Linked DNA regions of Homo sapiens: region 2 is linked to region 1. Evidence: fine-mapped expression QTL. A gene starts in region 1. The other region holds a variant in brackets. All regions are shown on one strand. Distances are from middle to middle.

Region 1 (11,030 bases):
AGGTAGAGTGTGTCTCAGGGAATGTGGGGGTGAGTGGGGAGATAGGGGTAATTGGGGATGACCTCTCTGGAGAGTAACATTAGCAGAGAACAAATTGCCAGGATGGAGCAGACCATTGAAGATATGGGGGAATAGCAAGTGTAACGGCTGCCCAGATAGCAGCCAGCTTGGCAGATTGAGAACAGAAAGGAAGCTGATGCGGTTGGAGTGGAGTGAGCCAGGGAAGAGAAGGGTGGGAAATGAGGCTGGAGAGAGGGAGTGGAGCCAGCCTCTGGGGAGCCAGGAGGGTCAGGCTGAAGGGGTGGGTTGCCCCTCCACACCTGTGGGTGTTTCTCGTAAGGTGGAACGAGAGACTTGGAAAAGAAAAAGACACAGAGACAAAGTATAGAGAAAGAAATAAGGGGACCCTGGGGACCAGCGTTCAGCATATGGAGGATCCCGCCAGCCTCTGAGTTTTCTTAGTATTTATTGATCATTCGTGGGTGTTTCTCCGAGAGGGGGATGTGTCAGGGTCACAAGACAATAGTGGGGAGAGGGTCAGCAGACAAACACGTGAACAAAGGTCTTTGCATCATAGACAAGGTAAAGGATTAAGTGCTGTGCTTTTAGATATGCATACACATAAACATCTCAATGCTTTACAAAGCAGTATTGCTGCCCGCATGTCCCACCTCCAGCCCTAAGGCGCTTTTCCCCTATCTCAGTAGATGGAACGTACAATCGGGTTTTATACCGAGACATTCCATTGCCCAGGGACGGGCAGGAGACAGATGCCTTCCTCTTGTCTCAACTGCAAGAGGCATGCCTTCCTCTTATACTAATCCTCCTCAGCACAGACCCTTTACAGGAGTTGGGCTGGGGGACGGTCAGGTCTTTCCCTTCCCACGAGGCCATATTTCAGACTATCACATGGGGAGAAAACTTGGACAATACCTGGCTTTCCTAGGCAGAGGTCCCTGCGGCCTTCCGCAGTTTTTGTGTCCCTGGGTACTTGAGATTAGGGAGTGGTGATGACTCTTAAGGAGCATGCTGCCTTCAAGCATCTGTTTAACAAAGCACATCTTGCACCGCCCTTAATCCATTTAACCCTGAGTTTGACACAGCACATGTTTCAGAGAGCACGGGGTTAGGGGTAAGGTCACAGAATCTCAAGGCAGAAGAATTTTTCTTAGTACATAACAAAATGGAGTCTCCCATGTCTATTTCTTTCTACACAGACACAGTAACAATCTGATCTCTCTTGCTTTTCCCCACATCAGGCAAAGAGTTTGGATTTTCTTCTCAGTGTCATGACACTCCTCTGAACAGCAACATTCAGCTTCCAAAGCACTTGCACCATTGCACTTGATCCTCACAAGCCCTTTGAGGTAGATAGGACTGACAATAGTATTAACTCCATTTTATCAAGACAGAAACTAAAGCTCTGCCAAAATTAGAAAACCTGCTGTGAGTCACCCAGTTCAAATAAGATTCTTTGACTCTAAATCGGGGTTTTTAACCTCAGCTGTGCATTGAAATCCTACAGGGAGCTCTACAAAATACCTATGACTCAGTCCCATTCCCAGTAGTTGAAGGGGTGCTAGTGCCAGCTATGGCCCAGGAAGACTTTTAAAGCTCTCCAGGTGATTTTTTTTTTTAGACTGGGTTTTTCTCTGTCACCCAGGCTGGAATGCGGTGGTGGTGCAATCATGCCTCACTGTACCCTTGACCTTCTGGGCTCAAGTTATCTTCCCACGTGAGCCTCCTGAGTAGTTGGGATTTTAGGCATGAGCCACTGTGCCTGGCCCTTATTATTATTTTATTTTTAATTTATTATTATTTTTTGAGATGGAGTCTTGCTCTGTCACCCAGGCTGGAGTGCAGTGACATGATCTCGGCTCACTGCAACCTCTGCCTCCTAGGTTCAAGCGAGTATCCTGCCTTAGCCTCTAGAGCAGCTGGGACTACAGGCGTGTGACACCACGCCCAGCTAAGTTTTGTATTTTTAGTAGAGACGGGGTTTCACCATGTTGGCCAGGCTGGGCTGGAATTCCTGACCTCAAGTGATCTGCCTGCCTTGGCCTCCCTAAGTGCTGGGATTACAGGTGTGAGCCACTGCACCTGGCCTAATGCTCCCTTTTTTCTGTTCCTAAGCCACTTTGTTCATACCTCAATCTTAACACTTCTCACATTATTTGGAAGTTATCAATCTTCTTATCTTAATGCCTATACATTGCAAACTTTAGATGGTGGGGGCTGTGTTATTTAACTCTATACTACTGCTACCTCTGTGCTGCAATTATCTTTTTTTTTCTTTTTTAGTGACCGGGTTTAGCTCTCTCTCTGTTGCCCAGCTGGAGTGCAGTGGCAAGACTCATCAAAGCTCACTGCAGCCTTGAACTCCTGGGCTCAAGATCCTCCCTCCCTGGCCTCCAGAGTAGCTGGGACTACAGGCATGCGCCACCATGCCCAGCTAATTTTTAATTTTTCTGTAATCTCATAGGGTCTGGCTATGTTGCTCAGGCTGGTCTCTAACTCCCAGCTTCAAGCGATTCTCCTGCCTTGGCCTCCCAAACTGTCGTGGTTACAGGGATAAGCCACTGTGCTCAGTCTATGCTGTCTTTCAATAAAGACAAGTGCTTAAATTTAATGTAGTTTAAATTTATCAAAGTTTTATTTACAGTTTGTGATTATGGCACTTAATAAACCCTACCCTGAGATCATAAGGATGTTTTCTTTTCTTGTAAAAGTTATAATTTTGGGGAACGATAGTAAGAAGAAAAAAAAAGTTGTAATTTTAAAATGCTTTAATTTCCCCTGTAAGTCTTTAACCTACCTTGAATTAGTTTTTGCATAGGGGATCCAACAGGTAACTGGTTGTTCCAGCCCATGTACTGAATACTCTATCTTCCCTCACTGAACTATAATTCCAGCCATACCTCATTTCATAGATGCCTGCATGTTTGGGCTCTGTAGGTGGTTCCATTTCCCCCTCTGCCTTTCCCTATTCCAATATCACATGGTCTTAATTTGTATAGCTTTATAATACATGTTGACATGGAAGGGTGCGTCCTTGAAACACATTTTTCTTCTTCAAGAATGTTTTGGCTATGCTTTGCCTTAAAGTGGTGGTTTTTTTTTGTTTTTTGTATTTTTTTTTTTTTTTGAGACAAAGTCTCGCTCTGTCACCCAGGCTGGAATTCAGTGGTATGATCTTGGCTCACTGCAACATTTGTCTCCCGGGTTCAAGGATTCTCTTGCCACAGCCTTCTGAGTAGCTGGGATTACAGGTGTGCACCACCATGCCTGGCTAATTTTTGTATTTTAGTAGAGATGGGGTTTTACCATGTTGGCCAGGCTGGTGATGAACTCCTGACCTCAACTGATCCACCTGCCTTAGCCTCCCAACGTGCTGGGATTACAGGCACGAGCCACTGCGCTGCCCTTTGTTTTTTCATACACACTTTTGATTAGTTTGTGAAGGTCCAGAAAAAATTATGTTGGAAATTTGATTGGAACTGCATTGGACTGATAGATTAATTCCCCCATGAAAAAAATAGCTCAAGAGATGTTTATAGAATAAACAAACGTCTGAGGCCTGGCGTGGTGGCTCACACCTGTAATCCCAGCACTTTGGGAGGCCAAGGCCAGAGGATGGCTTAGCACAGAAATTCGAGACCAGCCTGGGCAATATAGTGAGACCACACCCCCCAGCTTTTCTTGAGAAAAAATTTAAAAAATTTAGCCAGGCGTGGCAGTATGTGCTTGTAGTCCCAGCTACTCCACAGACTGAGGCAGGAGGGTACCTTGAGGACAGGAAGTTGAGGCTACAGTGATGGAGCCTCTACACTCCAGCTTGGGCAACACAGCCAGACCCTGTCTCAAAAAAAAAAAGAGAAATGTTTTTGATACATGTCTTCAAAGTGCATCTTATAAGTCAACATTTGATAATGGAGATCAGTGAATGAATGAATAAGGGCCAAAGATAACTAAGATTAGCTAGCATATTATATTTATTTATTTATTTATTTTGAGACGAGTCTTGCTCTGTTGCCCAGGCTGGAGTGCAGTGGCCCAATCTCAGCTCACTGCAACCTCCACCTCCTGGGTTCAAGCAATTCTCCCACCTCAGCCTCCCGAGTAGTTGGGATAACAGGTGCCCGCCACTATGCTGGGCTAATTTTTCTTTTTCTTTTTTTTCTTTTTGGAGACAGAGTCTCACTCTGTTGCCTAGGCTGGAGTGCAGTGGCGTGATCTCAGCTCACTGCAACCTCCGCCTCCCGGGTTCAAGCGATTCTCCTGCCTCAGCTTCCTGAGTAGCTGAAATTCCAGACGTGCACCACCACACCAGGCTAATTTTTGTATTTTTAGCAGAGACAGATTTCACTATGTTGGCCAGGCTGGTCTCAAATTCCCGGCCTCAAGTGGTCCGCCCACCTTGGCCTCCCAAGGTGCTGGGATTACAGGAATGAGCCACCGCACCCGGCTTAATTTTTCTATTTTTAGTAGAAATGGGGTTTCACTATGTCGGCCTGGCTGGTCTCCAACCCCTAGCCTCAGGTGATCTGCCCGCCTCAGCCTCCCAAAGTGCTGGGATTACAGGTGTGAGCTACTGCGTCCTGCCCAGCCAGCATTATTATTATTATTTTTGAGACGGAGTTTCGCTGTTGTTGCCTAGGCTGGAGTGCAATGGCGTGACCTCGGCTCACCGCAACTTCTGCCTCCCGGGTTTCTAGTGCCTCAGCCTCCTGAGTAGCTGGGATTACAGGCATGCACCACTAGGCCTGGCTAATTTTTGCTATTATTAGTAGGGACGGGGTTTCTCCATGTTGGTCAGGTTGGTCTCAAACTCCCGACCTCAGGTGATCTGCTAGCCTTGGCCTGCTGGGATTACAGGCGTGAGCCACCGCCCCGCCAGCATACATCAATTGTCAGTAAATTTCTTCTTCGCCTACTAGTTCCAATATCTTATTTAAAATCTATGGCCCGGTGAGGTGGCTCAGGCTTGTAATCCCAGCACTTTGGGAAGTCAAGGCGGGTGGATTGCCTGAGTTCAGGAGTTCAAGACCAGCCTGGGCAAAATGGCGAAACCCCGTCACTCCTAAAAATACAAAAAATTAGCAGGGCGTGGTAGCACACTCCTGTAATCCCAGCTACTCAGGAGGCTGAGGCAGGAGAATCACTTGAACCCGGGAGGCGGAGGTTGCAGTGAGGCGAGATGGGCCACTGCACTCCAGCTTGGGCGACAGAGTGAGACTCTGTCTCAAAATGAATGAATGAATGAATGAATGAATGAATAAAATCTACGAGGTCGGGCGCAGTGGCTCACTCTTGTAATCCCAGCACTTTGGGCGGGCGGATCATTTGAGGTCAGGAGTTTGAGACCGGCTTGGCCAACATGGTGAAACCCCATCTCTAAAAAAAATACAAAAATTAGCTGTACTGCTTGGGCGACAGAGCGAGACTCAGTCTCAAAAAAAAAAAATCTACAAATCCACTTCATCTTTCATTAAACACGAACCTGGGACGTAGTTAGAATGTCTTGAAGAAAATATTTCAGTAATATTCCAAGTCCGTCGCCCTGGCAAAGCAACAAGGCCACCTGACGGAGTAAGCCCGAGACCCCTGTGCCTCCACAGTACTGCCCGCGGGATCGCGGCGTGGGGAACCAGGAACTACAAGTCCCGGCAGGCCGCGCGCGCCTCGGCTTCACTAAGCGCAGTCAGGTGGCTGTCCCCGCACGGTTCCCAGCTAATTCCCCGCTACCGGGTTGCGGCCGGAAGCCGGGCGCCGCGGCTCTGCTTCCCTCGGGGTGAGTAGGGGCAGCTCGCCGGAGGCCGGCGCAGAGCTCGGGCCGACCAGCCTGGCAGGGCCGCACCGCGCCTGGAGCGCGAGGGAACCGGCATGGACACGCCGGGAGTCGGCCTCTGCTCCGGTTGTGCAGCCGCCCTGGGCGCCGGGAGGGACAGCCCCATGACCTTGTCACCTGGGCCCGGCGCGCGGCCACGTGGCTCGGGTGACTCGCATTGCCCCGCCCCCCTGCAGTGACTTCTCCAGTTTGGCACACCAGTGGGCTTTCATGTGACCTGTCCACTTCAGTGGCACAGTCTTGCAGGCACCCGAGTGGGCAGAGCTGGAGGAGGGCCGGAGGTGGCTCACCCAGACGCCTTCACCCCCTGGTGGCCCTGTGAGTTCCGAGGCAGAAGCAGCTGGAGCTGGAGCGTGGTCTGGGCAAGAGCAGGGGGCGATGCCCATATCCTGGCCCTCCACCCGGTCTTGCGAACGTGCCCCAGACCGCTGCTTATCTCCAGCATCTTGCAGGGCCCTGGGCTTCCAGATCACACAGTAGATATGTGCTAACAGCAGCCAGTGTGTGTGGAGAGCAACCTTTAGATAAGACACCTAGAACAGCCCTCTCCCAGGGTTAAGTGGCATTTACTTTCTACTAACAAGAAAGTCATTCAACAAGTATTTATTGTTTACCTCCATGATACTTGGCACTTAGTAGGTGCTCAAGAAATATTTGCAGAGTTGAAGTGAATTAGACTTTATCTGTGGCTTCATATGTTTTATTTAATAATTTTCTTGGGGCTGGATGTGGTGGCTGATGCCTGTAATCCCAGCACTTTGGGAGGCCAAGATGGGAGGATTGCTTGAGGGCAGGAGTTCAACACCAGGCTGGGCAACATAGTGAGACTCCCGTCTGTATTAAAAGAAAAAAAGGAAAATAAATAAAATAATTTTCTTACTACAGTGGTTCTCAAACTTTAGCATGCACCAGAGTCACCTGGAGAGCTAGTAACAACACACAGTACTGGACCCCATCCCCAAAGTTTCTGATTCTGTAAGTCTGGTATGAGGACCAAGAATTGGCGTTTCTAACATGCACCCAAGTGATGCAGTTGCTGTTGGTCTGGGGACCATACGTTGAGTACCACTGCTTTATAGGAAAAAAAATCCTGTGAACTTAAAGCACTATCTCTTCACACCTGGTTACGGGTCTTTCTGTCTTTATTTGCCAGTTTTACTTTTTTGGTGATTGTAAATATGTGCATATTACTTTGTACACTGTTAACTCCCTCCATATTAATTTATATACAGATTTTAATGTAGTCTATACTTGTCATTTTTCCTGGTTACATCATATTCTACCTTATTGGGTCATTCTTTGCTTGGCCATTTCTCAACTGGCCTCAGGGATGTGCGATTTGATCTGTACTAGAAGAGTGTGCATATTCTTACTTTCTGCTATGCAGTCATTTTCTTGTCAGACAAAGGACCTGTAAGAATATTAGTTGGGGCCGGGTGCGGTGGCTCACACCTGTAATCCCAGCACTTTGGGAGGCTGAGGTGGGCGAATCACTTGAGGTCAGGCGTTCAATGCCAGCCTGGCCAACATGGTGAAACCCCATCTCTACCAAAAATACAAAAAAATTACCTGGGCGTAGTGGTGTGTGCCTGTAGTCCCAGCTACTTGGGAGGCTGAGGAGGAGAACAGCTTGAACCCGGGAGACGGAGGCTGCAGTGAGCCGAGATCGTGTCACTGCACTCCAGCCTGGGCGACTGAGCAAGACTCCGTCTAAAAAAAAAAAATTTAGTTGGGTCAGCCATCCATTTCTTCACCAGGGTAACTCACTAAATATGCCTCCTGGGTTAAGGTTTCCATGTTGCAGGGACTCCAGTGGCCTATTTCAGGGCCCAGCAAGCTGCTTGTTCTTGTGCACTTTTTGCTCTCTTGGTGGGAGCAGTCATACATGGATTCAAGTTCTGCCTCCATCACTTACCAGCTCCTTGGCCAAGTTTTCTACCTTTTCTAAAACACCACTTCCTTATCCATAGATTGAAGCTCTAATAGCATGCACCTCGGAATCTGGTTGTGTGAGTTAATGAGCTAATAAGTGCTTGGTACTGTAGCTCTCCCGTTGGAAGCTCACTCTCTTCTCTTACCTGCTGCTTGCTCTTTGCATCTGGCTTTGCCCTATTCTCCCTCAGTCTGCCTTTCCTAGGATGGACTGAATGGAGGATTTCTATTCCTTGCCTGGGTGAGAATTATTTTTGTTGTCTATTCTGGGACCTTGGCATCAGTCAGGGATTCCTTTTTTTATTTTTTGAGACAGAGTGTTGCTCTGTCGCCCAGGCTGGAGTGCAGTGGCACGATCTTGGCTCACTGCAGCCTCTGCCTCTCGGGTTCCAGCAATTCTCTTGCTTCAGCCTCCCGGGATTCCTTTATTTAATCAACATTGATTTAAGGACCTTGAGTGCTTAGGCATCAAACACTAGGAAAGGGAGTTTGATTAAAATTTGGTTCCTAGCCGGGCGCGGTGGCTCACGCCTGTAATCCCAGCACTTTGGGAAGCCAAGGCGGGCGGATCACGAGGTCAGGAGATCGAGACCATCCTGGCTAACATGGTGAAACACCGTCTCTACTAAAAAAAATACAAAAAAATTAGCTGGGCGTGGTGCCGGGTGCCTGTAGTCCCAGCTACTCAGGAGGCTGAGGCAGGAGAATGGCTGGAACCCGGGAGGCGGAGCTTGCAGTGAGCCGAGATTGCGCCACTGCACTCCAGCCTGGGCGACAGAATGAGACTTCATCTCAAAATAAATAAATAAATACAATTTGGTTCCTGGACTACATTACTATCTTAGGGAGGGCAGACTGTAAACCTGCTCAGGCCAACTTCACACAGTCCCTTGCTATTGACTTGGTGTCTTTGGCATCTTTCCAGACTTGAGGCATGATGGTATCATTCACTTTGTGTGCTTTCTATCCATATCAGGGACCAGGTTCTTCTGAAGACCCTATCACTCTCTCCAAGGGTATTTTTGGGTCTTTTTTCAGTTTTGGGGGCAGACTAGAAGAAATAATGCTCATTGGTATAATAGTCTCTCTAGGAAATGGGAGGAGGCCATGGTCACTTTTCATGGAACTAGAGACCTAAGTGCCTTTTCTCTGTGGTAATTCTCATTTGTGCACCAAACAGGGAAAGGTGATTCCAGGCCTTTAGTCCTGAAATGTAGCATAGGGAGAGGGCTGCCAATGGATGGAAACTGAAAAGGCCTAGCTAGTCACTGACTCCGATGAACAGTAAGTGCTTGGTTTCCCATTTAGTTCTGTCAAGGGGACGGACATTTCGTGTGACCATCAGCTTCCCATTTGTACGTCCCAGACTCTCCTGTTGCTTCATTTTCATAACCTACTGGGGTGTTTCCTGTGGTCCAGCGAGATGGATTCCATTCTTGTCATTGATTTGACAATAAAACAGCCATGTCAGCTTTGCAGCTCTCCTAAACATTTGATAGACTGAAATGGCTTGTTTCTAGTGGGAGGCATTGGTTGATCTTGTGACATCCTGTTGATTTTGGGGGCTCCAAACAGTGCCTCCCACATGCCTGGCACTGGGTCAGAAATCATAGTCTCTGCCCACAGCAACAGTTGCATTTACTTGAGAACAGCAGTAAGGACTTTAGTGAACAGGAGTCCAGGTGTTCCTATCAAAGACGTTACCTGTCATAAAGAGAAGGGCTGAATACTTGGAATGAGTGGGAAGGCCCTGCTCAAGCTCTTAGCCATTTTACTAGCTGAGCCACCTGGGACAAATCTCTCACCCTCTCTGCTCCTTGGTTTCCTCATTTATACCTGGGGATGGTAATAATATTTGTCTCTCCTCACTGGGTTGTGTGGAATATCTAATGAGTTGAGTGTAAAGGGCTCTATTTTAATATAAAGGCTAGTTCTTGCTAGTGTTATTATCTAGTGATTAGGTTTAAGGGTTTTGGTGGCCTCAGACCCCCTGTAAGGTATGTACTGTTAGGAGAGGTGACTCAGGTGAAAGTCAAAAAGGCTAGTAAGCAGAACAGGGCAGGTGATTCATTAACAAAGGGTTTAATAAGGAAAAATGTTTTCAATTGACAGACATATTTCACGCCTGACAGGGTCTTTTACAATACCCCGAGGGAAGCAACTCATTTGCATGTTAAAGACTCAGGGACACCTTATGGAAAACTCTAGCTCCAGTCTATTTAGATGCCATTCGGCTCCTGTATCATCTATTTTATGTATTTCAATTTCCATCTCTTTTATCACTGAGGACATTTGCACGAAAACAGGGTTTCGAGAGTTGTGTCTGCTTCGCTGTTACTTCCCACCCAGAGGTGGTCTCAAGGGTAGGGGTGGCCTCATTGCATACAGGGGACAGGTGTGGAGGTTGGTGTAACAGGAAGAGGGGGTTCAGGGGAGGCAGGGGCTGGGAGGTGGTGTTGGGGTGGGATGGGGTGTTGGTGATGAATTGTCAGCCCAGGGCATGTGGTTTTCACCTGGGGACCTGCATTGTTCCTTGCTCTGCACAGGTCTCAGGCCTCACTGGCTGTAGTTTGTCCATTCATTGATTCATTCGTTCAGTAAATGCTTTTGGAGCGCCCCCTATGTGCTAGGCCAGGGTTTGGCAAATGACAGCCTGAGGTTCAATTCTGGCCACACCTATTACTTTATACATCCTCTGTGTTTGCCTTGTGCCACAATGCAGAGTTGAGTAGATGCGTCAGAGATGTTATAGAATGCAAAGCCAAGGCTGGGCACGGTGGCTCACGCTTGTCATCCCAGCACTTTGGGAGGCTGGGGTAGGCGGATCACCTGAGGTTGGGAGTTTGAGACCAGCCTGACCAACATGGAGAAACCCTGTCTCTACTAAAAATACAAAATTAGCCGGACGTGGTGGCGCATGCCTGCAATCCCAGCTACTTGGGAGGCTGAGGCAGGAGAATCGCTTGAACCCTGGAGGCGGAGGTTGTGGTGAGCCGAGATTGCACCACTGCACTCCAGCCTGGGCAACAAGAGTGAGACTCTGTCTCATTTAAAAAAAAAAAAAAAAAAAGAGTCATTTTTGGCTTTGCATTCTTTTTTTTTTTTTTTTTTTTTTTTTTTGAGACAGAGTCTTGCCCTGTTGCCCAGGCTGGAGTGTAGTGGCACGATCTTGGCTCACCGCAACCTCCGCCACCTGGGTTCAAGTGATTCTCCTGCCTCAGCCTCCCGAGTAACTGGGATTACAGGCACC
Region 2 (11,030 bases), 100 kb after region 1:
CCTATAAAGGGGATGGTGACATTCCATAAATCTGAGAACCACTGACTTCTATTCAAAGAACCCCCTTCATTTTAAGTAACCAAGGAAGTGACCCACAACCCACAGGATGCCTTAGAAACCAGTTCGATGAGCACTGTAAAGTTTTCTGTGTTATGAATTAGCTTACTAATTAGTTACTAGCAATTAATATTAGTTAATATAATAGACTGCTTATGATTAATGATGTCAGGTATTACCAAGTGTTAATAATAATGAATAGTATTAATAATGACTAATTATGTAATTGATTAGTAACTGGAAAATCTTTAATGTGCCTTTCAGTGCTGCTTGGATATCAATGATAATTAAAAATTCCACAAAAAACAGTGACCATACAATAAATGATGAGGAATTACTGTTTGGCCAGAAGCTTCACCCCCAAGTAGAGACCTCACTGGGCTACAGGTAGCTCTCTGTGCATATCCACGTCTGGCCTATGGTAATTACCTGGAGGGTAATCAGTAAATATTGATTGGACAAATGAGAGAGCCTCATTGTGGCCCCTTTCCTTGCCCCTCTCGGGCGAGACCCTCTGGAGTTGAGATTGGAGCAAAATGCTGGATAGCTTTTCTTGCCTGCATTCCAAGCCCAGAAAAGTGGAATTCAGGTGACTTAGATGGCATGGCTGGCCTCCGCCTGGGCCTGGGGGAATCACTTCTGTTTCCCGTTCACTTGCTCTGCATCTGCTCTGGTTGCTGCCAAGGGCCATCTGAGGGCACTGTGACGAGATTTGATGTCTGGAGGCTGCGGTGCCCAGGTGCCAGGGCTTGAGGCATACAGTCCAGGCCTCTCTGTTGCCCCCTCTCCCTTCTAGTCTTGCTTGATACAAACAAAACATAAACTAAATCAATTATCATAAGGTCACAGGTCTAGCCCATGAAAGACCAGACAAAACTCAAAAGAAATTAAACTACAGCCAAATGTAATTAAAAGAAGTTTTGGTAGAAATTGAGCATGATAACACGGTGCGATGATTCTTTTTGGAATGGCGTCTGGTACATCACCCAGGACATAGGGCTTGAAAACAAAGCTGTAAATGCCTTGTAGTTAATAGTCTGGCTTTAGATTGATTTCTTTTGCCAACACAGCATTGGGCAAAATATCATAGAACAGGGCAAAAAGAAGCATGAGACAAGGCTTTTATCTGGGGCTCAGTAAGTCTTTCTGGAAAGATGGGAAGGGGAAGGTCTTTTGGTACCAACAGGCCCACAGCTTGTTAGTTCTTATTGCCATCTGCTATAGCCAGGGTTAGAGATGGTTGTTCTCAGATAACTCGGACTGTCATTTATACTAAGAATTACTGGGTCAATCAGTCAATGTTCTCCCCAGGCCTGGCTTCGAATGCCAGCAGGAGAGCTTATGGGAGGTCAGGGCCCTTCTGTTTCCCTCCCAGAATTCTGGAACACCTCCTATGTCCCTGGTATCACCCTTGCTCACCCACTACAGAGCCATCATCCAGGAACTTGGGCACCCATCTCAAATCCAGGGCCCTGGTGGTGGGGCAGCCTTAGGATTGTGTCTCTGCTCATGGCAGGGGCTGTGGTATGCTGTGCACAGATCACTGGGCTCTTCTTTAATTTCACATCATTAAACTGACCCCTGAATGCCAGATACATCTTCTAAAACCCCCTCTTAACATGTCATCACTCAAGAATCCACAGTGGAGTCAAATTGCCAAAAATCAAAGCTTTTCATCCAAGTGGTCAAATTCCTTCTCTCTGTCTCCTCTCGTCTTATCCAGCTTTGTTTTCTTATTCCAATTTAGTTTTTTATTATGAAACATTTTAGACGTACAGAAAGTATAGAAAATAGTATTATAAATGTTCAAGCACCAAACATTCAACTTAAGAAATAAAGTAATGACAGTTACATTTGCAGCACCCTCCCAGTGCTTTGTGAACAGACCAGAACAGATCGGGGAGCAGCCACAGCAGCAGTTGAGCTAAGTGTTTCAGAGCAAGGGCTGTAGAGTTGGCTGTGGAATTCCCAGGGGGAATTCTAGCTCGGTACTTCCTTGCTGGGCAGATTTTTTGAAAATCATATAACCCCTCAGAGCCTCAAATTCCTCATCTATAAAATGGGATAGCACTTTGGTAGGCTGAGGCAGGAGGACTGCTTGAGGACAGGAGCTTGAGACCAACCTGGGCAACACAGTGAGACTCTGTCTCTACAAAAAAATTAAAAAAATTAGCTGGGCATGGTGATGCATATCTGTAATCCCAGCCACTCAGGAGGCTGAGGTGGGAGGATCACTTGAGCCTTGGAGGTCAAGGTTGCAGTGAACTGTGATTGATCACGCCACTGCATTCCAGTCTGGGCTACAGAGTGACATCTTGTCTAAACAACAGAAAAGGGATGATAAGATGTGTATCTGTGTGCCTCCCAGAGTTGTTGCAAGGATTAAGTTTAGTAGTAAGTAAAGTGCTTAGTTTACTATTCGCAGTAGCAAAGATGTGGAATCAACCCAAATGCCCATCAATGGGAGACTGGATAAAGAAAATGTGGTAGATATACACCATGGAATACTATGCAACCATAAAAAGGAATGAGATCATGTCCTTTGCAGGGTCATGGATGAAGCTGGGAGCCATTATCCTCAGCAAACTAATGCAGGAACAAAAAAACCCAAAGACCGCTTGTTCTCACTTATAAGTGGGAACTGAACAATGAGAACACATGGACACAGGGAGGGGAACAACACACCTGGGGCCTGTTGGGCGACGGTTGGGGGGTGGGGGAGAGCATTAGGAAAAAGAGCTAATGCATGCCAGGCTTAATACCTAGGTGATGGGTTGATAGGTGCAGTAAACCACCATGACACACGTTTACCTATGAAACAAGCCTGCACATCCTACACACATATCCCAGAACTTAAAAAATAAAATAAAATAAAAAATAAGTGCTTAGTTAGTGCTGGGCACGAGGGGAACCCTCAGCAAGTGGTAGTCATGGTTACCGATGCTGGCTGTTGGGCTATCATCATCTTGGACTTGGTGCAGAGTACCAAGCTTATGGGAGAGCAGGAGCCTACTATGTTTCCCTCCTGGAATTCAGAGGAGGGATGGGCCCCAGGGGAGCAGTTTCCCTTACTCTAGGGGAGAACCAGGCAGGAAGGTAGGGAATGTCCCTTGGTATATGCTGTGGGCCAAATGACTGGGGTGCTTGTTGGATTTCAGGTGCTCGTTCTGGCTGTGAAGCAGCTGTTCCCAGAGTTTGAGTTTATGTGGCTTGTGGATGAAGCCAAGAAGAACCTGCCTTTGGAGCTGGATTTCCTCAATGAAGGGAGGAATGCTGAGAAGGTGTCCCAGATGCTCAGGCATTTTGACTTCTTGAAGGTAGGTGGGACGATGCAATGCAGGGTATGGTGGTCTGGTGGAAGAGTGTAGCGGTATGTGGGTCCCTGCCTTGAGCATCCCTTTCAGGACATAATTGGGACATCTTCTTCCTGAGTCCTCTTACTGAGGATGAATGACATCACTGGTGATGTGCATTAAATCACTTGAAGGCAATTTGCAAAGAAATATCAAGTGTGATTGTTGACCCATTAGTCAATTAAACAGATGTTTATTGAATAATCGACAACTACAAGACACTGAGCCTTAGCCAAGAACCTATATGCCGTGGTCTCTGCCTCTGTGAGGCATGGGATGGTGATGATGATGGCGATGCTGATAGCTAACACTACTGTACGCTGGGACTGTTTTAAACACATGTGTTTTACCTTGGCTCATACAGTTGGTTCTTCTGTAACAAAACATATGTGTCCCTAGAAATACTGCAGTTATGGAAAATCACATAAGAGAAACCACAGAGCTTATGGGGAAAATAGAGTTAGGGGCACAACACTCAAAAAAATTCATCAGTGGCTGGGCACAGTGGCTCACACCTGTAATCCCAGCACTTTGGGAGGCTGAGGCAGGTGGATCACCTGAGGTCAGGAGTTCGAGACCAGCCTGGCCAACATGGTGAAACCTCGTCTCTACTAAAAATATAAAAATTAGCCTGGCGTGGTGGCATGTGCCTGTAATCTCAGCTGTTTGGGAGGCTGAAGCAAGAGAATCACTTGAACCCGGGAGGTGGAGATTGCAGTGAGCTGAGATCACGCCACTGCATTCAGGTCTGGGCAACAAGAGTGAAACTCCGTCTCAAAAAAAAAAAAAAA[G/GAAAA]AAAATTCATCAGTAATACAGTAATATAGGAAAGAAAAGAAGATAGGAATGAATAAAAACCAGTAGCATAGTTTTACACATGTTAAATGGCTAAGAAATACATAAGACCACAATACACATGGCACTTTACCTTGAGCCTGCTGTGGAAGTGGGCATCAGAAGGGTTGCTGCTTGTTAGTTTTGTGGGGTGGTGGGAGGAGTCCTTTGAAATGGGACGGAGGCTGGGCATGGTGGCTGATGGCAGTAATCGCAGTTCTTTGGGAGGCGGAGGTGGGCAGATCACTTGAGGGAAGGAGTTCAAGACCAGCCTGGCCAACATGGTGAAACCCTGTCTCTACTAAAAATACAAAAAGTAGCTGGGCATGGTGGTGCACTCCTGTAATCTCAGCTACTCGGGAGGCTGAGACAGGAGAATCGCTTGGACCCAGGAGGCAGACGTTGTAGTGAGCTGAGATCATGCCATTGCATTGCAGCCTGGGCAACAGAGCGAGACTGCGTCTCAAGGAACAACAACAACAACAAAAAAGAAATGGGACAGAAAGTTGTAAGGCCAGATGTGGGTGACTCACCGACTCGCAGCGATGTCGAGGTGTGTTTGTTTTGTGTATTCCAATGTGGCACGGCTCTGCTGGATGCAGCTTTCTGCATTCACAGTGTTTCTCGCAGATGATAGTACACATAAGCACATCCAAAATTTGCATTATGATCAAACTATTCCCTAACATATCAATTGCATTGGAACAAATTTGTGTTTTCAAAACAAGTATTATAGCAGAACTGTTCTATGTAATAAGAGACACTTAATGTGGGAAACAATATCAGATAATATGAAGTCGCAGCTGTCAGTGCCCCATGAGAAGTACGGCTTCTACATGCTCTGAGGATTCAGAAGTAGGGACTCCCATGGCCTACTGGGTCAGGGCAGGCTCTGCTGAGAAGTTGGCACTAGAGTTGGTGTTCTTTTTTTTTTTTTTTTTGAGACAGAGTCTCGCTCTGTTGCCCAGACTGGAGTGCAGTGGCGCGATCTCAGCTCACTGCAGTCTCCGCCTCCTGGGTTCAAGTAATTCTCCTGTCTCAGTCTCCCAAGTAGCTGGGATCATAGGCATGTGCCACCATGCCTTACTAATATTTGTATTTTTTTTTTTAGTAGAGATGGGGTTTCACCATGTTGTCAGGCTAGTCTTGAACTCCCGACCTCAAATGATTTGCCCACTTTGGCCTCCCAAAGTGCTGAGATTACAGGTGTGAGCCACTGCTCCTGGCCCTGGAGCTGGTCCTTTTTTTTTTTTTTTAATTAATTATTTTATTATTATGATTTTTCTGAGTCAGAGTCTCACTCTGTCACCCAGGCTGGTGCGTAGTGGTGCAATCTCTGCTCACTGCAACCTCCACCTCCCGGGTTCAGGCGATTCTCCTGCCTCAGCCTCCTGAGTAGCTAGGACTACAGGTGTGTGCCACCACACCTGGCTAATTTTTGTATTTTTAGTAGAGACACGGTTTTGCCATTTTGGCCAGGCTGGTCTCAAACTCCTGACCTCAAATGATCCGCCTGCCTCGGCCTCCCAAAGTGCTGGGATTATAGGCGTGAGCCACCGCGGCCGGCCGGAGCTGGTCTTTAAGGACCATCCTGGTGTTCTCTCAGAGCACACAGGAACTGGGGAGAGAGATGTATGCTACACCACTGTTCTTCCAACACATTTGTCCTTCCTGAGGTGTATGCCTATTAAAACAGGGTTACCCCCTTTATCCCAACAGTGCAGGGCTTGGAGGGCTCTTCTGGTTGTCTACACTGAGCTTAGCTTCCAACTCTAGGATGGATCACCCTTCCCTCTTCTTTACCAGGCCTGGAGAATGCACGAGAGGGGTCACCAAGCCCTCAGGAGCTCCATGTGCAGGTTCTAGAGCCAACAGTCAAGCTGTGCTGTTCTTGGGGAGGATGGCTCAGAACATTGGATCAGGGAAAAGGGACTCTCTCATTCTTCCCTAAGGTGTCCTTTTGGCTTTTGAAGACATCATGAGAAATGGAGGAAGTGTCTATATTTTTGCTCTCCTGATTGACTAACAGGGATGGAATGACTGAAGATGTGTCTATTCTAACCACTTGAGAATCCGCAGGAGGAAGAACCGCAGCTGTGTTGATCAGTGCAGTGTATTGACACATTGACTGTGGTGGAAGATAGAACCCATGAAGTTTAGCTCTTTGTGTGTGGTGAGGGTTGGGTACGTCTCCATACTCCCAGTATGCTTGACTGGCATTTTGTTGGCTGCCATTGTCGGTGTGGATGTACAGACCCTCTTGTGTGTGTAAATCCAGGAGTGCAGCCTAGATCTGGTGTCACTGCCCCAGCCTTGGAGCTCAAACCACCAGTTCAGTGAAAACTTGGCTCTTTGAGACAAGTGATAATGTTAACTAATTAGCATAATGCTATAGAGTCTAATACATGCTTCTACTTGCTTATTCCATTTCTTTTATTCCCAAGCTTGTTGCTGTGCTGGGAGCTGAGGTTTGTCCCTGCTCTGGAAAACTTCTCATCTAGTGGAGGGACAGACACAGCAATGTGTTGTTGCAGTGCAGGTTTGTTAGCACCATGACAGGCATTCATCTGTGTTTCTGTGGATTCCCAAGAGGAAGTACGTAATTCTACCCAGGATAAAGGGCTCTGGTGAGTGCTTCTAAGAAGTATTGACTATAGGCAATATATATTGATTATTTCTTCTTCATCAGGAGCTGCTGCATTGAACAGTCTGCAGGTACTATGGTGTTGAGTCCTTCCAGCAGGCATCAGCCCATATTGCAGAGGACAGTTTGAGTAGAGGAGCTAGGGCAACATCCCAGATTTTCTGACTTCAAGTGTGGTGCTCCTCTCAGGATACTCTGCTGCCATTTACCGGCAGGGGTGCCCCTCAGAGCCAGAACTATGAGCCAGACAGAACCATCTCCTCTACTGTTCCCATGGAAACAGCAAAATTGTCCCCTGGCTGGGGCCAACTGGCAAGTGCCAGACCAAGACATGCAATAATAACAATAACACACATTTTTCAAATGAAGATGCCAAATGGGTAAATAATGAATATACCAATTTGACCTGCTGTTTCCAAAACTTGCACACCCTTCCTAAGACAGTGGTGGAATTAAGGCTCTTGAGTAATTAATTTTGCCTAAACACATAACAAGGGGGAAGTGAATTTTGCACTGTGAACCCAGTTCAGCTCTTAAAACTGGAGATAGACTGCTTTTGCACACTGGCTCCCGATCACAACATCTGTGCATAATTAAGCCTCCGCAAAGACTTTACCTCTCAGTGTGTGAGGCATCTTCCGGTGCTTATGTGCGGTTTAAGAACCTCAGCCCTGTGCTATAAATCTCCCAGGCTCAGACAAGCACTGAATGCAAATATGGCGTCAGGGGGACTGGGAGAGGGTGAGGGGGCAGCTAGGCTGAATGATTAAGGCCAGGCTTAGTGGATCTGGCAGCAGAGCGTATGTGCCAGGGGATGGAAACAGGACAAGTGGTAGGGTTTGTGACTCACCTGGGGACAAGGTGGCAGGGGAGAAGCTTTATAACCACAGGGTTTGGGACTGGAAGTGATGAGACCATTTCTGTATGTGTGGAGGTGGGGATAGGTGTGCAGGGCCATGCCAGGGTTCCTTAGTGTGAGGTAAGGAGCCCAGGACTCTAGAAATTGTGGACAAACCCTGAGGAGATGTGCATGCTTTTTGGGAAGTATGATAACTTCCCATGAATCTCAAAGATTAGGAACTACAGATGGATAGTAATTAATATATAACTTCTTTTTTGCAGAGTGATTTATATTCTTTAATTCTTTAATTCTTACAACAGCCTCACAAGGGAGGTGCCATAATCACCCCCATATCATCAGTTGGGAGACTGAGGCTCAGAGCTATCAACCCTTTGGGCAGGGTCACAAGGCTTACCACTAAGGGGAGGGAATAGAGGTAGCCTGCTCCAGAGCCTGCATGTTCACCCTCCATATGGTTTTGCTCTGTGGGGAAGTTGTGAATTCCAGTGAACCGTCTAGAGCATAACTCTCAGCCCTGGTGTGTATCAGAGCCCTCTGTGAAACTCGATGTGGCTGTCCTAAGAGCAATCGATGTTTTTTCCAGCAGCTGCTAGTGTCTGGTTCCATGTTGAGTGCCAGTACTCTGCTCATAGTAGTGGGAAATGGGGGCGGAGGTGGGGTTGTGCTTCCACTGTAACCATTATCACCATATTTTTGGTGGAGAAACTGGTGTTCAGAGAGGTTATATAACTTACCCACAGTCACACAGCTTTTAGGTGGCAGAGCCGGGGCTCCAGCCAGCAGCCTGACTCCAAATCTGCCGGTCTGACTGCATGTCTCCAGGCCTTCTGCTGTGCTGGACTCAGGCTCCAGGAGGACTGTGGGCCTAGGGTGATGGGCACTGTCTCAGACAAGCCAGGCGCAGCCTGTTTCGTGGGCATGTTGACCAAAGCATAGAAACAAAGCAGAAATGTGAGGTCAGGGCCAGACTGTGAGGCTGAGGCCCAGGGTCTTGGGCTAAAACTTCTCTAATTGGTGCCCTCCTTCTTGGGGTCCAGATTGGCATCCGTGTGGGAGGCAGGAGGAGCCCACAGGAGGGAGGCCTCTGCTCTGTGGCAAAGAGGTAGAACCTGGACCCAGGGGTCCTAATGGTCAGGGTGTGACCCTGCTGGTGGGGCCGCTGAGCACCCTGGCCATGAGCTCCTTAGAGTTTCAGCTTGCTTTGTTTGGGGGTGGGATGGGGGAGTGCGGGGTGCTTATTGACTCTTTCAAATTTCTCTTTTTCATTTTTTCCTTCTTTGATGGAAGAAGCATAGGACAGGAAATGTGGGCGCTCACTTCACCCCACACCCCCAGGTCCTCCTGCCCATCTGGTGATTTAGGCGCAGCTCACTTTTTTAACTGAGCAGGAGCAGTTTGGCATTTTGCAGTCATTTCCATGTTATGTCTGTCCAGGGGCACCTGTGGTTCTGAAGCTCCCATGACAAATTCCACTGTTTCCCAGGTTTGATATTTTAGTCATTTCAGATTTAAGCAGCAGAAGCAAGGGGCACATTCTGTGGTTAGACTGGAATGGTGATGTTTGCAGGGAGACCAAAAAGGGGGAAACCGCAGTACACCCAGGACCCTGATGCACAAGCACAGAGAAGCTCCAGCCTGTGGGATTTCTGTTTCCACCTGTGACTCTTTCCTAGCTGGTTTTTTTTTTTTTTTTTTTTGAGATGGAATCTCACTCCCTCTGTCACCGTGGCTGGAGTACAGTGGCGTATTCTTCACCCACTGCAACCTCCGTCTCCCAGGTTCTAGCGATTCTCTTTCCTCAGCCTCAGTGATCTGCCCTCCTTGGCCTCTCAAAGTGCTGGGATTACAGGCGTGAGCCACTGCGCCCAGCCCCTCGCTGTTTTTTAAGCTGCCTCTGGTGGGGCTGGCTAGAGATTTGACCTCTTGTCTCCAGAGCCTTAGGGGCCCACTGTCAAAGGTAGGTTTACAAACAAACCCAAGGGAAGAATTTAACCCGAAAATATGTCCCATTCATTTGGAAGCCATGAACAAAAACAACAGGCAGGGCACGGTGGCTCACGCCTGTAATCCCAGCACTTTGAGAGGCTGAGGCAGGAGGATCTCTTGAGTCCAGGAGTTCGAGGCTGCAGTGCGCTATGATGATGCCACAGCATTCCAGCCTGGGTGACAGAATGAGACCCTGTCTCTAAAGAAACCGACAAAGCAACAATAGCAAACATGCACTCACTTTTTTAAAAAGAAACTTTTTGAAAAATGCCAAGCAAGTCTAAATTTTAAGTTCAAAGTATCAGTTTCACAGATTTCTCTATTGGCCCAGATTTTCAAATGGCAGAAACCGCAGTCAAGCAGCAAACCAAAATAACACCTTGCTTTCTGGTGGAAACTTTGTTCCAACTAGAGCATTTCACTTGTATGTACAGCCCCCATTTATCCTCAGAGGTCCTTACTGAGATAGGGCAGAAACAATTCTGCTTTCCAGTGAGGAAGACTGGGATGTAAAGAAGTTAAGTGGCTAGTCTAAGACACAACAGTATTAGCAGAATTAGGAACAGGAAATAGGTCTGTTGACTTGAGGGCCACTATGTTATTGCTAGATGAATTTGGGTGGTCAGGGTAAAGGAAAATCTTACTCTCCAAAACATTTGAAAAAGCTGCCCATGTTTCTTTATTTGTAAGAGGAAATAAACTCCTCACAATTTGGGGGAAACTCGGCATGCTGGAAGCCCAGTAACCCCTCCCTCCTGGCTGTGGGGGTACTGGTGGGTGTCCCTTGCTCACATGGCAGCCTGGTTGCATTCTAGTCTCTTGCCCGCTCCTGGAGAAATCTGTTCTCTTTTTGGTTTTTGAGTGTTATGAGAGTCAGAGAGGGTTGGAGAGTGTATGTTAGTAATGCATTTGTCTGTAGGCAACTGAAAGCCTCATTTAGAGTGCCTTAAACAAAAGAATTTGTTGTCTTCACATAGCAAGAAGGTTTGCAGTGGTTGCCTACTGACATATGGTTTTGGTGGTTTAACAGTACCAGAGCTGGCTTCTCAGATTTTTAAATTTTTTTATTTTTCCTCATTGTTGCAAGATGGCTGCTACAGCACCAACAGTCACATTCACATTCACTTTCGAGGCAAGAAGAGAAGTGGAAGAAGAGTAGCACTATGCAAATACCCCCTTTTTTTTAAATCAAGGAAATAAAAACCTTCCCAGAATCCCCTAGCAGGTTTCCATTTTTGTTCATAAGTCAGAACTATGTCACATGGCCATACCTACTATAAAGCAGGCAAGGAAAGTATTTA

Direction of the effects. Alleles are on the strand shown, and positions count from the first base shown. SD is a standard deviation of normalised expression in the study named.
As copies of GAAAA replace G in region 2, the expression in lymphoblastoid cells of the gene that starts at base 5,730 in region 1 goes up (small effect, 0.36 SD a copy in GEUVADIS).

What was found.
Region 2: its variant is fine-mapped to the expression of ADCK1 in lymphoblastoid cells (GEUVADIS, PIP 0.95).

Annotation. Positions count from the first base shown.
Region 1 is chr14:77,794,380-77,805,409 of GRCh38, forward strand. ADCK1 (aarF domain containing kinase 1) reads left to right here and starts at 5,730. Exons shown (of 11, transcript NM_020421.4): 1 at 5,730-5,791. RefSeq lists silencers at 1,841-1,890, 1,901-1,950, 5,656-6,015 and enhancers at 5,055-5,593, 5,594-6,132, 6,206-6,255, 6,266-6,345, 7,727-8,566.
Region 2 is chr14:77,895,885-77,906,914 of GRCh38, forward strand. ADCK1 (aarF domain containing kinase 1) reads left to right here. Exons shown (of 11, transcript NM_020421.4): 6 at 3,216-3,374. Among named protein-coding and RNA genes, the nearest start is that of ADCK1, 100 kb to the left of the region's middle. The variant G/GAAAA (reference allele first, on the strand shown) is at 4,202.